Homo sapiens: one gene and its partners. The protein of the gene in region 4 interacts with the protein of the main gene of each other region in a biochemical or structural test. Each region holds a gene or a part of one and is shown on either strand. Other genes may lie near its edges.

Evidence for each region. The genes of interacting proteins can lie anywhere in the genome.
Region 1: the proteins of ITGB2 (region 4) and RANBP9 form a complex in vitro, tested with the Homo sapiens proteins (one study listed by BioGRID and IntAct).
Region 2: the proteins of ITGB2 (region 4) and COPS3 form a complex in vitro, tested with the Homo sapiens proteins (one study listed by IntAct).
Region 3: the proteins of ITGB2 (region 4) and MAPK8IP1 form a complex in vitro, tested with the Homo sapiens proteins (one study listed by IntAct).

The regions. Positions count from the first base shown.
Region 1 is NC_000006.12:13,635,336-13,638,835, forward strand, and holds part of RANBP9 (ran-binding protein 9), read right to left. Parts: intron 2,621-3,500; coding exon 2,473-2,620; intron 1-2,472. UniProt on the Homo sapiens protein: May act as scaffolding protein, and as adapter protein to couple membrane receptors to intracellular signaling pathways. Acts as a mediator of cell spreading and actin cytoskeleton rearrangement.
Region 2 is NC_000017.11:17,264,247-17,267,746, reverse strand, and holds part of COPS3 (COP9 signalosome complex subunit 3), read left to right. Parts: intron 1-2,765; coding exon 2,766-2,945; intron 2,946-3,500. UniProt on the Homo sapiens protein: Component of the COP9 signalosome complex (CSN), a complex involved in various cellular and developmental processes.
Region 3 is NC_000011.10:45,895,651-45,899,150, reverse strand, and holds part of MAPK8IP1 (C-Jun-amino-terminal kinase-interacting protein 1), read right to left. Parts: intron 1,067-3,500; coding exon 961-1,066; intron 756-960; exon of another isoform or gene 680-755; intron 106-679; exon of another isoform or gene 60-105; intron 1-59. UniProt on the Homo sapiens protein: The JNK-interacting protein (JIP) group of scaffold proteins selectively mediates JNK signaling by aggregating specific components of the MAPK cascade to form a functional JNK signaling module. Required for JNK activation in response to excitotoxic stress.
Region 4 is NC_000021.9:44,900,400-44,904,643, forward strand, and holds part of ITGB2 (integrin beta-2 isoform 1 precursor), read right to left. Parts: intron 3,137-4,244; coding exon 2,966-3,136; intron 1,335-2,965; coding exon 1,093-1,334; intron 77-1,092; coding exon 1-76.

The sequences.
Region 1 (3,500 bases), on a different chromosome or scaffold from region 4:
CGCACTCTTATAAGCAACAATAAATATCTAATCTTTAGGATTTATCCTATGGAAGCCTAGGTAATAATTATACAATCTAGAAGTAAACACTCGATGAAATTTTAGGTAATGCTTAGATAAAAATGACATTTCTCATTACAAAAGCAATATATATTCAATTGTAGAAAAAAAAACACAGATGAGCAAAAACCACTATGCGTAATACCACCAGAGGTAACAAATTCTAACACCTTGGGGGTGTGTGTGTGCATGCATACACTCCTGTTAGTAAAATTGTTAAGGTAAAAAAAAAAAAAACAAGAGATCTAGGGAAAAGGGGGATATGGCCCTACGACTCCAGAGCAGACTTACTCAACCAGGAAAGCTTGTTTATAATCTTAACAAACTTCGAAAATTGGTAAGAAAAACCAAACTTTAAGAATAAGAAAATCCTTACCATCACAGCTTTCAGTGGCTTTTTAAAAAATACTAAACTTTTTTTTTTTTTTTGATAACTCAGTTTAGTATTTGGAAGGAACTCGTTCATTTAACACACATTTAAGAGCCTCTGAGGTATGATCCCTGTTAGGTGCTAAGGATATTATGAAACAGCCTCTGCCTTCCTGTAGCAAACAACCTATAAAAAGCTAATTAAGTTATTATATTACAGAGTAATTATGATCAGTACTATGATGGAAGTTAATCACAAAACATGACATATTTGATGGGATGTAAATCAAGGAAAACATCCTGGAAGAACTGACATCTGAACTTGAATTTTCTCAGCCTGGACAGAAGTTATACTGGAGGTGAGGGAGGGTAGGAAGAAGAGCATTTCAGATGGTGGGCGGTATCAGGGAAAAAGCACAAGTTTGCAAGTCAAATCCTGAAACGCAGCCTCAGCTCTGCAACTTACTAGCTACTAATAATTGACCTTAAGAAAAAAAAGTCATTTACTTTTCTGATATCCCGCTCTACATCTGTAAAATGGTTTAAATAGTTAATACCATCTTTGCCTACTTCACAGTTAGGAAAGCCATTACCAACTACAAAATAACTTATAGCTTAAGGCAGTTCAAAGTTGACTTTCTTTCCCTTTTATACTGCAGACAAAGGAGGATGTTGTGTCATCAGACCCTTCCGTTAAGCTTGCTTCCCTGAACTCAGGTAATAATAGATCTGTTTAGCAACTTCCTGCTGTAGGGATAGTATTCAAGAGAAAAACTCACAAACTGACTGCAATCTTACCCTCAAACATTGGCAAGAGCCTTGATCAATGATAAAGTACCAATGCATTTAGTATAAAGCATGATGAAGTACTTAACTTTTTACATTTCCATCTATTTTTAAACTATAATATTTTGATTTTATATTTTCCAATATATCACCTCTGCTGTGAAAGACGATTTTTCTGCTCTTCTCATACACTTTTGTGGTTCTCCATTACAACTTATATCAATCACACACACTATTACTTCAGTAAATTTTTGTCACGTGTGACAGACAACCCAGAAATTGAGATTAATCTCCCAATTTTCAAATACAGATTTTTTTTTACATACAATCCTTTCTGCAAAATCATATTTCCATTAAGATTCCATGCTAAAAGTTAGGCTCTCTCTCCTTTAATAAGAAAATGTGGCACTGATGACCATTTCCTGAAAATGCAATGTAACCAACTGGTTTGTTATAGACCAAACCAATATTAAATTGACCCAGTCCTGGATGATTTGGGCAGGGTGAATTCACAATAATTTGCTACTGCACAGTAGTATTTAATTCAAATAATGTCACTTCATGAACTTTTAGGTTTCATAAATATTAAACCTGAGTATATCAAGGGTCATAGTACACTGACTGAGATATCATCTTTCAAACCTCTTCAAAGTGAGACACCCTACCTAGCAGAATGTTTGGTGCCCAACAAATCCTCAAAACCATCCTCACACCAATGTTTACTAAATGACTTAACCATCTGCTATATGCAAGCTACTTAAAGGCAGGCTTTCAAAAAAGATTATTTGTAAAGTTAGTTTTGAACTTGGAAAACATTCTACACATTTACACCAAAAAAAACTCACACACAGAGAAAAAATCAGTTGTAAATTTATCTTATGTCACCGTTCAAGGTTAAATATGCTACTGTGTCTTAACCACTGTGAAAACATAACAAATGGCATTTATGTGATCATTTGTATAGCTCTGTGGCTGGCAGGAAGACAATGCATGAAGCCCTGAATTTGTCCTTATAACTTTACTAGAGGGAAGAAGGTAGTAGAGAAGAGGAAGAAACTAAGGAAAGAGCTCATGTGCATAATAGGAGACTAAAAAGCTTTGGGGAACTGACTCCCTACGCTTTTATTCTCTGGGGGCTTAAGAACTCCCAGAGCCCCTCTGTGGGTCACATAATTCAAGTTCTTTCAAAATTATTACAACGATTACACCTATAACTAGGTTGCTTATATTAGTGCAAAAGTCAGTGAAATTACTTACCTGGTGAAGTTATTAACTTGCTGTGATCTTGACATATTTATACTGTTTAGTTCTGGTACATTCAAGTTGGATGACTGGTGTTTATTACTATGGCAATATGATTGATGTGCTTTATTTGATATTACACCATTACTACAACTTTCAAAACCTGAAGAAAAAGATACCACGTAGAAACAGAAACAAACACTAATTTATTAATACGGTTGTAAACAAGTCTCCATGTTGATTTTGTACTAAGACTTCTAGAACGTAGGAGAGTCAATGGATGATGTAAACAGGTAACTTCTTTGAAAGGATACTAAGAATACTTAATTGTGAGATCTTAATTATTACCTCATCTAACATTTATTGAAGGCTTAATTACACATCTCATTTAATCCTCAAAATCCCCCTAAAATGGCAATATTATGATCATCCCCATTTTACATATGAATACACTGAGGCTCAGAATTTATCCAAGCCTGAAGTGACTGTATGATATTCAAGAGGAGTAGTGGCTAAGAACAGACATGGGAATCACACTTGTTGTACAGAGTGGTGATGTAAATAAACTGAGAGGAAGTAATGCAGAAAAGAGAATAAATTGAAATAAGAAAAAGCAATGGTGTTACTTCATGAAAGGAAAGGAGACACTATCTGACTTGTTTAAGAATGTTAAATGTACAAAGATAACATCTTGGGAAATGCAGAATTAAAGAGATGGGCAAACAGAAGACTGAGAAGCATCAGAAATAAATCTGTGGCTGGGCACGGTAGCTCACACCTGTAAGCCCAGCACTTTGGGAGGCTGAGGCAGGAGCAGTGCTTGAGGCCAGGAGTTTGAGACCAGCATCAGAAACATTGCGAGACTCCAACTCTTTAAAAAGAAACAAAAACAAAACCAAAAAAACCTGTAGAAGTGATGTCACAAAAGCCAAGAAAGGAGAGAATTTTAATTAAGAGAAAGCCCAAAGTCACAGAGAGTAAGACTGGTGAGCCAACAAACGGATGGGAGAAAACGAACTAGGCAGAGCTGACTTTTGCAAGAG
Region 2 (3,500 bases), on a different chromosome or scaffold from region 4:
CTATTACATTCAGGCGGGTGCTGGATGCAAACTGTAGGATGGGGCTCAACTAGTAAGCTTGTCGAACAGATAGGGTAATTAATAGTTGTAACTTTTTTTTTTTTTTTTTTTGAGACAGTCTCACTTTGTCGCCCATGCTGGAGTGCAGTGGCACAATCTCAGCTCACTGCAACCTCTGCCTCCCGGGTTCAAGCAATTCTCCTGCCTCAGCCTCTCGCGTAGCTGAGACTACAAGCACCCACCACCAAGCCTAGCTAATTTTTGTATTTTTAGTAGAACAGGGTTTCACCATGTTGGCCAGGCTGGCGTTGAACTCCTGACCTCATGATCCACCCGCCTCAGCCTCCCAAAGTGCTAGGATTACAGGTGTGAGCCACCACACCCGGCCCTAGTTGTAACTTTTTTTTTTTTTTTTTTTTGAGACGGAGTCTTGCTCTGTCGCCCAGGCTGGCGCCATCTCAGCTCACTGCAAGCTCCGCCTCCCGGGTTCACGCCATTCTCCCGCCTCAGCCTCCCGAGTAGCTGGGACTACAGGCGCCCGCTATCACGCCTGGCTAATTTTTTTGTATTTTTAGTAGACACGGGGTTTTACTGTGTTAGCCAGAATGGTCTCAATCTCCTGACGTCGTGATCCGCTCGCCTCAGCCTCCCAAAGTGCTGGGATTACAGGCGTGAGCCACTGTGCCCGGCCTGTAACTTTTTTTAAAATCCCGAATCATTTTTTTAAAATTGTGGAGCCTGCCAGGTGCAGTGGTTCACGCCTGTAATCCCAACACTTTGGGAGGCTGAGGCGGGCGGATCACCTGAGGTCCGGAGTTCCAGACCAGCCTGACCAACATGGAGAAATCCCATCTCTACTAAAAAAAAATTGTGGAACCTGAGACTTAACATAGCTAACTTCTTACACCTTAAAATGTTATTCATTTATCTTTTTTTTTTTTATTTTTTGAGATGGAGTCTTGCTCTGTTGCCCAGGCTGGAGTGCAGTGGCATGATCTAGGCTCACTGCAAGCTCCGCCTCCCAGGTTCAAGCAATTCTCCTTCCTCAGCCTCCTGAGTAGCTGGGATTGTGGACGTGCACCACTACACCCGGCTAATTTTTGTATTTTTAGTAGAGATGGGGTTTCACCATTTTGGTCAGGCTGGTCTTGAACTCCTGACTTCAAGCGATCCGCCCACCTCAGCCTCCCAAAGTGCTGGGATTACAGGTGTGAACCACCGTGCCTGGCCTCATTTATTTATCTTATTTTGCGATGTTCAAAGTCCAGAAGGCAAAAGGGCAGGTATATAATGAAGTCTCCTTCCCATTCTGTTTGCTAGCCATCTATTTCTTCTCTACAAAGGAAACTATGTTAGTTATTTCTCGTGTATCCTTCCAAAAACTTTTTATGGACATAAAAGCAAATACGAATATATATTTTCTCATTTTTTACACAAATTGTAATAATCTATGCATACTCTTATGTAGCTTGCTTTTTGTATTTAACATATCTTGGAGATGATTCTGTAGCAGTACTCTACAGGTACGGAGTATTCTATAATATGAGTATGCGATGGTTTTAGAAGTCTGCATGGGATATTTACATTGTTTCCTTCAAGAATAACATGGTATGTGGATTATTTCAAACACATGTTCTAGTTTCATATGAAGATGTGCTTTTTAATGTTTTAAAAAAATTGTGATTGAGGTACAACATATAGACAGTAAAATACTAAAGTGTATAGCTCAGTGAGTTTGTACGCATGTCTACACTGCGTCTCCATTAGCTAGATAACTGTTCTAAGGGCTTGCTTTCTTGAGTTGCACAATTCCCTGTATTTACCTAAAGGATTAATTAAAGGAACCACTTCTACTTGTATCACACCATGCTGGTCTCTTTCTATTCCACTAGTTCAGTAAAGAAAGAGGACACACTCTTTTTCCCTCTAATCAGATGGGTAGGGATAGGTTAAGAGATAAGTGAGTCTTGTCTGTAGAGTTCTCTATTCTCAATCATCTATAGCATGCTTGGCCTTATAGCTGTTTAGCTTTTTATAAAGAAATGCTCCCCCAGGTGAGGTGGCTCACGCCTGTAATCCTAGCACATTCGGAGGCCAAGGTGGACGGATCACTTGAGGTCAGGAGTTCGAGACCAGCCTGGCTAATGTGGTGAAACCCTGTCTCTACTAAAAATACAAAAATTAGCTGGGTGTGGTGGTGCACGCCTGTAATCCCAGCTACTCGGGAGGCTAATGCAGGAGAATCACTTGAACCCGGGAGGTGGAGGTTGCAGTGAGCTGAGATGACGCCACTGCACTCCAGCCTGTGTGACAGAGTGAGACTCCATTTCAAAAAAAAAAAAAAAGGTAATGCTGTTTTTTTCTGAATGGCTAAGAAAATGGAGTACAGGTTGACTATTCCTAATCTGAAAATTTGAAACCCAATCCAAAAATTTGAAACCCAAAATGCTCCAAAATCTGAAATCTTTAGAATGCCAACTTGGCACTCAAAGTGCTCATTGGAGCAATTGGATTTCAGGTTTTCAGATTAGGGATGCTTAACTGGTATGTATTCTGCAAATATTCCAAAATTTGAAACACTTGTGGTCCTAAGCATTTCAGATAGCAGATACATGAAATGTGTTGACATTTAGATAATTTTAGTCAATAAAATGTAAAACACAATTACATTATTTGGAAATTTCTGGAATCAATGAATTTTCTCCTTCTGCTAATACCTGCCTAAGTAAAATTAAAGTGATGATTTAATATCAATTTGTTCACAGCTTTGTTTGCTAGCAAAATGCTTTAAGCCTGCCCTTCCATATCTTGACGTGGATATGATGGATATCTGTAAAGAGAATGGAGCCTATGATGCAAAACACTTTTTATGTTACTATTATTATGGAGGGATGATCTATACTGGGCTGAAGAACTTTGAAAGAGCTCTCTACTTTTATGAACAGGTAATCTCTCTAAAAATTAGCTGAGGTTGTTCTGAACTTGTGTGATCAAAAAAGTGCTCCCATAGGTTTGTGGCTAGAGTGGTCTGATCCCAGGGCCTCCGTTTCAGGTGTTGGTCCTTTCAGAGACTACTTCTCTGTGATCATGTAAATAGTGGTAACCTGATCCCTAAGTTGAGGAGCAGCGCCAGTGCATAGAAGAGCACTTGTCTGGGGGTTCTAATCTAGGCTTGCACTTATACCTTATCTGATTTGGAATAAGTTATGACATCTCTTGACCTTTATAGCTTCCTTTGCATATAAGGAAGAGATTGAACTGAGTGATCTTGGTTGTGTCTTATTCTAAAACCATGTGTGGTATTTTGTTAAGTTTTATTTAATCAGTGAAACATTCTCTTGATTCAAAATTTAAAGGGTAGAAAGGAGTACACAGTAAAAGTCCCTCCCACCCTTTCTGTGTCTGTGTAATGAAACATAGTACACAATTTGGTAGAATATTCTGGAGGTTTACTCAGACTCTGAAAAAGAGATACACAATATTGATTAATAAACCACTTT
Region 3 (3,500 bases), on a different chromosome or scaffold from region 4:
GGAAGGTTGGGGTACTGGGGACTAGGGGATTATCCTCACCCCTTGGTTTCCTCTTGCAGAGCTTACTGAGTCTCTGGGAGTAGCAGGAGGTCAACACAGAGACAGGTACTCCCTCCCCAAGGCACACCTCACGCTCCTATGGTAACCACTCTCCTGACACCGTATCTGGCTACCCGCCCTCTTGGGGGCTCAGAGGAGCTCTGGGCTCTAAAACCTAGCCCTGTGCTCTGTCCTCCATTTCCTGGCAAGCCGGCCCCTTCTTCCTGTTCTGAAAAGACATAGTTGGGATCCCCATCTGACCCCAGTTACCCAGGTGCTGGGGACCTCCTGGCAGCATTCAGATCTTTAGGGACAGGAGAGAGCCATCTTCCCTATGACAAAGCCAAGGGGCCCAAACCAGCAGCAATGCTGGGCAAACCCCTCAGTGGGGGCCTTTAGGACTATAGGCCAGAGAGGGTCTGGGAGGCCGCGTGGTGCCATCTGTCTGGTGTAATAGCAGCCAGCAGCCACAGGAGCTATTCCAGGGGTGCCTTGGCTGTTTCTTCCTGCCCTAAAGCACTGCAGATTCCACCAGACTCCACCCTGTCTGCCTCAGGCCCTCTGCCAGGGCTGCTCCCAAAAGGATTCAGGGGTAGCCCTGAGTCTCCCTTAAGTCTGGTCCTAATTGTTACTGCCCTAGGTCTCAAGACTTCCTGGCCTCTCCCATCTCGTGGGCAGTTGAAGGAGCTACTTCCTGTCTTAGTCCCCGACAGCAGTAATAATAATAATAATACCAAATGAAATTCTGATTGTACACTCAAGACGTGCCAAGCAGTATACCTATGTTTCTTGCACATCATTTCATTTCATGAGGGTGCCAGCACAGACCTGAAACCCCCTTTGTCACTATGGGGATACCCTTACCCCTGTCCCTAGCCTTCCTGCCACCCCACTCAGGAGCTCCTGGGAGCTTGCCCTTACCCGTAAGGACAGGGTGTCTTTGCACTGTAAGCTGATGCCACACTCATCAGTGATCTCCGAGAGGTCTTCATCCTCAAACTCCTCCAGGCTGATGTCATGGGTGAGCCTGGTGGGGACAGGAAGCCAAAGTTACAACTCAGGGGCACTATGCCTGCTCACATCTCCCTGTTACCTCTTCCAGGGTGCAGCCTCTTGAAGGCCAAACACAGCCCCCAGAGGACAGGATTTGGGGTTCATCTGTATCAATGCAGGGGGTGGTCAGCAGGCAGGGAAAGAGCGAGGGGCTTGTGCCAAAAGGCAGTCCTCCTAGGGTGGCAGTGGAAGAGGAGGCTCCAGGTCACTCTGGCTCCTCCCTGGAAGCTGTCATTCTGTTGCCAACCAGCAGGCAGTGCTTAGAAGGCCCAACTGGTCAGAGCCTCCTCCCAGGGTCAAGGCAGGTGCCAAGGCCAGTTCACCATGGAGAATGTGGACTTGAGAAGAGCAGCCTGGAGTAGGGGAGCTCCCAGTGCAATCCCTGCAGTAGCAAGACCCGAGGCGCCGGCAGCAGCCTCAGAGGAGTGCCCCACGCCCCAGCTCAGGAAGACTCATGCCCCTTGAGCCCAGGGAACAAGCGAAGGAAAATCTGGTGTCAGTGTGGGTAGTTTCAGCCTATTCCAGAAAGGACTCCAGCCTCATGCTGTGCACTTGGTGGTCTCATCTCTTCAACCACAACATCTTCTCCTTATCCAGTGTAAGGACCCTGAACAGGAGGCTGCACAGATGGGGTCAGGAGAAGCCCCAGGTGGGACCAGAGGTGTTACAACCTTGGGAGACAGCTCAGAGCACCAGGGCACCAGAATACTAACCAGCTCCACTAGAACCCCCCTCTCCCTAGGCCAGCCCTGAGTCCCCACCTCAGAATGCAGGGCTGGGCCAGCCACTGCAAGGCAGCCTGTCTCTTGCTCACCTCTAGGTCCTGGGCACTCTGCCTGGCTTGCTGGGGGGGTGGTGGGGGGGTAGAACATTTAGGAAGTTGGGGAGAATGTATGAGCCTTTTCCCAAATAAGTCCAAGAAATTGAGGCACAGAGCAAGGGAAACCCACTAGTTCAAGGTCACCCAGGAGAGATGGTGGCTTAGCCCCCAGGGGAACCTAGGAGGCCCAGACTCCCTGCCACTCGCCTCATTCAGATCAGAGACCCTGAGCTCGATGGAGCTCACCCCAACTCGGTCTCCACCCCCGCCAGCCCCGGTAGCCCCTACCAGCGCTCCCATTGATCCTCCAACCAGCTGTCATTGTCTGGGCTCGAATCCATCTTCAGCACCAGCTGCATGGAGAGCCCTGCCCGGCCGGGGGGCTGCGGGGCCCCAGGGCTGCCCTCTCATGCCCGGAAGGGTGGGGGGGCCAGGGCTCAAGGCAGGGCTGGGGGCCTCTGGCCTCCACCGCTTGGGCCTGTCTTTCTGCGTCCTGCCTGCTGCAGAAGCCTGGGGAGCTCATTAAAAATAGACAGGCCAGGAGAGGAGGCTGCAGCTGCCGACCCGGGTCCCAGCCCCAGCTCTTCCCAGCGCAGCCCTCAGCTGCAGGCACCTTCCTCCCGGCTGGCCTGGCCCTTGCGCTGCTGCCGCTGTGGCCGCCTCCCTCACGGGATCAGGTTACTGCAATCAATGCCACTGGCTCCACCTGCCCTTCCAATGCCCCTGTCGGGGGCTGAGTGGCCCCCCCTCCCTGGCCCAGGCTTGTAAGTAGATGGCAGAAATCTAGGATGTTTCCCCCCAAAAGCCAGCCCTTGGTTGGCTTTAAAGGGCCAGTTCCCCAGTCAGGGTGCCAGGTGGGAGATGAAGGGGGGCTTCCCAAACACCCTAAGAATGAACACTCGGTTTGCACTGCCATAGGCTCAGCCCCCCGACCTCATCAGAGAGGCTTCTGTGGGCCCAGGCTGCATCCAAACTGGGTTTGATCTGGGCTGCCTCCTTCTGCAGCCAGAGCTTGAGCCTTCAGGACCCAGGAAGGCAGGGCCTATGGAAGCAGGAGGCACCAGAGCCACAGCTAAGGGCAGGCCAGTGTTTGGGCCCTTAGAGCAGAGCTGGAAGGGCTGCTGTGTGGTAATGAGCTTCCTCTCCCTTTGGAATGACATAAACAGAACCTGGAGGCCCCTGGAGGGCACTGCACAGAGGGGTGGGGAATGGGGGCTGGATGGACAAGGTGCCCTGTAGGGTCACGTCTGACCTGCAGCCCAAGGGTGGTGGTTCCCCAGGCCATGGGGAGGGTGTGGCTGGCCAGCTGGGGTGGAAGTGGGGAGGAGGGCCTGGCCCAGAAGCCAGAGCAGCCCTCCTCCGTCCGGCCAGGGCAGGGTGGCATCTCAGGCTCAGGGACAAAAACCCAGTGGCCAGCACCAAGTAAGTGTTCAATTCACACTGGTTGCCCAGATGGTCACCGAGAAGGCCAGTGGTGCAAAAGGGAGCCCCTGGTACTCAGATGGCATGGGAGAGCTGCAGGACCGCTGACCCAGAGGTGCCCTGAAATGCCCCTGCTCTGCCAGTGACCTCTGCACATATATATATA
Region 4 (4,244 bases):
CGTCGCCCGCGAAATGGAAGCCGTCATCAGTGGCAAACACCAGCAGCCGCGTGACGTTGCGCCAGCCGATTTCCTCCTGAGAAGAAGGCGTGGGGGGCAGGGTTACCTGCCTCAGTTTCCCAGACCCGGCCCTCTGGAGCAGAGGAGACGATGCAGAGCTGGTGGGGTGGCCCGGAGGCTGGTGTGGGTCCCCCTTTCCCCTGGGTCTCAGGGACCCAGCTGTGTTCCCCCAGACGCCACGCCCAGGAGGAGACAACGGCCCTCAAACACCCCGTGCACATGTGAGGCGCAGGGAGTGGAGGCACGTGTGGAAAGGCAAGGAGAGAGACACGGCTGCGGTCCCTGCACTTCAGAGCTGGGAACAAACCCTCAGGAAACCATCCCCAAGGGGAAAAACCCTCGCAGACGTGTGGGCCACACGCAGAACGAGTGCAACATGGAGGAAAACGAGCCTGAGGGGCCCAGCAGGCCTTGAGTCCACCATTGACAGCCCCTGGCAGGCGCATGTGGGGGCCGTGCGTGTCCTAGGCTGTGACCTCACACTCGTGAGCAGTGTGTCTGCGCTGGGACTGCAGGGAAGCAGGAGAGCTAAGGTGGGTTGTGAGGGGAGGACAGTGCATGTGGCCTCAACATGGCCCAGGGACTGTGGCTGCTCTGTTAGGCTGACAGTCACAAACTGGGTGGGCGGGACGTGGAGAGCGACACACACTGGGCAGCCAGCGCCCACCCGGCCTGGAGGGAGGAGGGTGGTTCCACCCCAGGAACCACGGGACCTGCTGCCTAGCGGCCCTGTTCCACCCTTGGCCGCTCGCAAAATGTTTAGGCTTCATAAGGTTTGCCCAGGGTCACAAATTTAACTCACAGCAAACAATGAAATCAGCGCATGATTTTCGAGCCCTCGTGGTCACCCTCCCTTCCTCCTGCCCTTTCCTGCATGGGCAGCAGCAGGGTGAGGAGCTGCTCTCCCCAGGCCCAGGCTGGAGTCCCTCAGACGACCTGCCGGCCAGGGTACCCCCCTGCCCCCACACAGCGCCTGACAGAGCCCCCCACACTGGGGGAACGTGGGGACCCAAGCAGGGGCAGCGGCCTCACCGGGCAGGCGGCGACCTGCATCATGGCGTCCAGCCCACCCTCGGGTGCATCCAGGTTTCCGGAAATCAGCTGCTTCCCGACCTCGGTCTGAAACTGGTTGGAGTTGTTGGTCAGCTTCAGCACGTGCCTGAAGGCAAACGGGGGCTGGCACTCTTTCTCCTTGTTGGGGCATGGGTTTCGCAGCTTATCAGGGTGCGTGTTCACGAACGGCAGCACGGTCTTGTCCACGAAGGACCCGAAGCCTGCAGGGCACATGGAGGGGCTGGGGAGGTGGCAGGCTGGGCCCAGGTGGGAGGGCCAGCTTCAAAGGGGCACGAGGGCAAGCCTGTTTCCTCTCTCCTAGCAGGGAGGTGGAGAAAGCAAGATGGCACATGTGGAGTGTGTGTGTGAGCATGTGCGTTGTGCAAGCACACATGTGAACGTATGTGGGCGTGTGTGTGAACCTGGGAGTGTGCAATGTACATGGATGAGCATAAGTGTATGCATGTGTGTTCCTGCATGTATGTGTGTGACCAGGTATACATGTGGGCATGTGAACAGGTGCGTATGTGTATCTGTGTGTGCAGCCATCTGCATGTGTAAACATGAGTGTGTACATGCGTAGCACAACTGTGTGTGCACGTATTCCTGTATGCATGTGAGCATGTTCAGGTATGGACACACCTAGTTCACGTAGGTGACCAGGTACATATGTGGGCATGTGTGTTTATGTACGATTTATACATGTGAGTGAAGACATACATGGGTGATCATGAGTGTGCATGTGAGCATGTCTGTGTGCACATGTGGTCTTGCACGTGTGTATGACTGTGTGTGCATGTGTGTGCACATGCAAGTGTGAGCATGCATTCATGTGTGTGAGCATGCATTTGTGTGTGAGCGTGCATTCACGTGTGTGAGCGTGCATTTGTGCATGTGAGCATACATTCGCGTGTGTGAGCATGCATTTGCGTGTGAGCATACATTCATGTGTGAGCATACATTCACATGTGAGAGCATGCATTTGTGTGTTTGAGCATGTGTGTGAGCATACATTCACGTGTGTGAGCATGCATTCACGTGTGTGTGCATTTGAGTTTGGGTGTGCTTTTGTGTGTGAGCATGCATTCGCGTGTGTGAGCATCCATTTGTGCATGTGAGGATACATTCATGTGTGAGTGTGCATTCGCATGTGTGAGCGTGCATTTGCGTTTGAGCATGCATTTGTGTGTGAGTGTGCATTGCATGTGTGAACATGCATTTGTGTGTGAGCGTGCATTCACGTGCATGAGCGTGCATTTGTGTGTGAGCGTGCATTTGTGTGAGCATGCATTTGCTTGTGTGTGTGTGTGTTATCGTGCATGTGTGCATCCCCGCATGTAGGGAAGGTGGCAGAGTGCCGATGTGAGAAGCCACGGCCGGCGGGGAAGACATGCGCTGTGACTGACACACACGTGTGCTGGAGACCTGCTCTGTGGCAAGGCAGTGCTGGTGTAGAGCGGAGCCCTTGGCCCAGCAGAGCTTGCTGTGTGGTTTCTTCAGTGCTGCCGTCGCTGTGCCGTCTATATGTGTTGTGGTCTTTAATGTTTAATAATTGGCACTGTCAGAATTTTGTCTTTTAAACATACCAAGAAATAAATAAAGGAAGTAGAAGATGGAAGGGGAAGTGGAGGGCTGGACAATGTCTACAAGTGTTGGGGAGCCAGGGACTGGGTGTGGCCCCTGGCAGGGAGGCAGGCCGACTGCAGCCCTGTGGATGCCCTGGGGGGACCTGCATCTGGGGCCCCCAGATCTACCCTGGGGACCTGAGTGCGAGGAGTTGTGTGGGCCACAGGCAGGAGTGGCCAGGGTCTGGGAAAGGACTGGGTTTTGTCCTGCAGTGCCTGGGCCTCACCAATGCGGCCGGACTCGGTGATCTCGTTGAGGGCCCGGAGCAGGTCGCCACCTAGCTTCTTGACATTCCTGAGGTCATCAAGCATGGAGTAGGAGAGGTCCATCAGATAGTACAGGTCGATGGGGTAGCCCTTGGCCCGCCGGAAGGTCACGTTGAACGCTGCTGCCTGGCCTGCCGGTGGGGACAGAACAAAAGGAGCCACACCTCACATCTCACACAGGGTGTCTGGGGGCGTGTGGCCCCGAGCGGGCTGTGCACTGGCACCCTCTCCTCCAGCCCCCAAATCCTCCTGACCTCCCCTCTCCCCGCCTGGCAGGAGAGCTGAGGACCAGACACAGGACATCCAGGCAGGCTGGAGTTTCAGAGGAAGGACATGACTCCCGGACGCAGGCATGTGCCTCGCAGTGACACTGAAACCCGCCTGGGGTGCTTAGAGTTGACGCCAGCGACATTGGGGACGCCTTTCATTGAGAGTGGCAGCGGCTCACCTGGGCTCACACCTAACCCGGCCCCATGCCTGCAGTCCCACGGGCGCCCTCATCAGCAGCCACATAGACAGGCATCACACGAACCTGGCACTTCCCAGCAAGGCCCACGCGGGCCGTCCCCAGGAGGCCCCTTTCTCCATCCCAGCCCTGGACTTCCGCTCGCCCGCGTCTCAGTCACACGTGCGGTTGTGTAGCTGTCTGTTTACCTGTCACCGCAACCAGCCTGTGTCCCTGGCTCCCAGAACCGTGCCTGGTACAAGTCAGCTCTCCATAAACACACATCATGTTAATGAATGAGCAGGGAGGGAGGGTGACGAAGCCTGTCCCCTCTGCCCCACCCTCCAGCCTTCAGCCCCCCTGGGCGGCAGGACAAGTGCAGAGCCCACTCCACCCCCAACCTGCCTGCTGCCACACCCTGGGAGAAAGGGTATGTGCCCCTCCTCACAGACACACACACACGCACTCCTACACATAAATACACCACATGCACACACAGTCACACATGGCATACACACCCACATATATGCACACACACAATACTCACACACAAATATAACTCATGCACACACAGTCACACGTAGCACACACGCACCCACATATACACGCACATGGCACCCACACACAGCAAACACACCACAAATATGCACACACACCACAAACACCAACCACCACACATGCACGCATACACACACACCTCACACTCATACACAACACCAGACACAAAGCACACATACTATATGTACTTGTTCATATACACAAACACACCACATGCACGCACACACACTCGCACA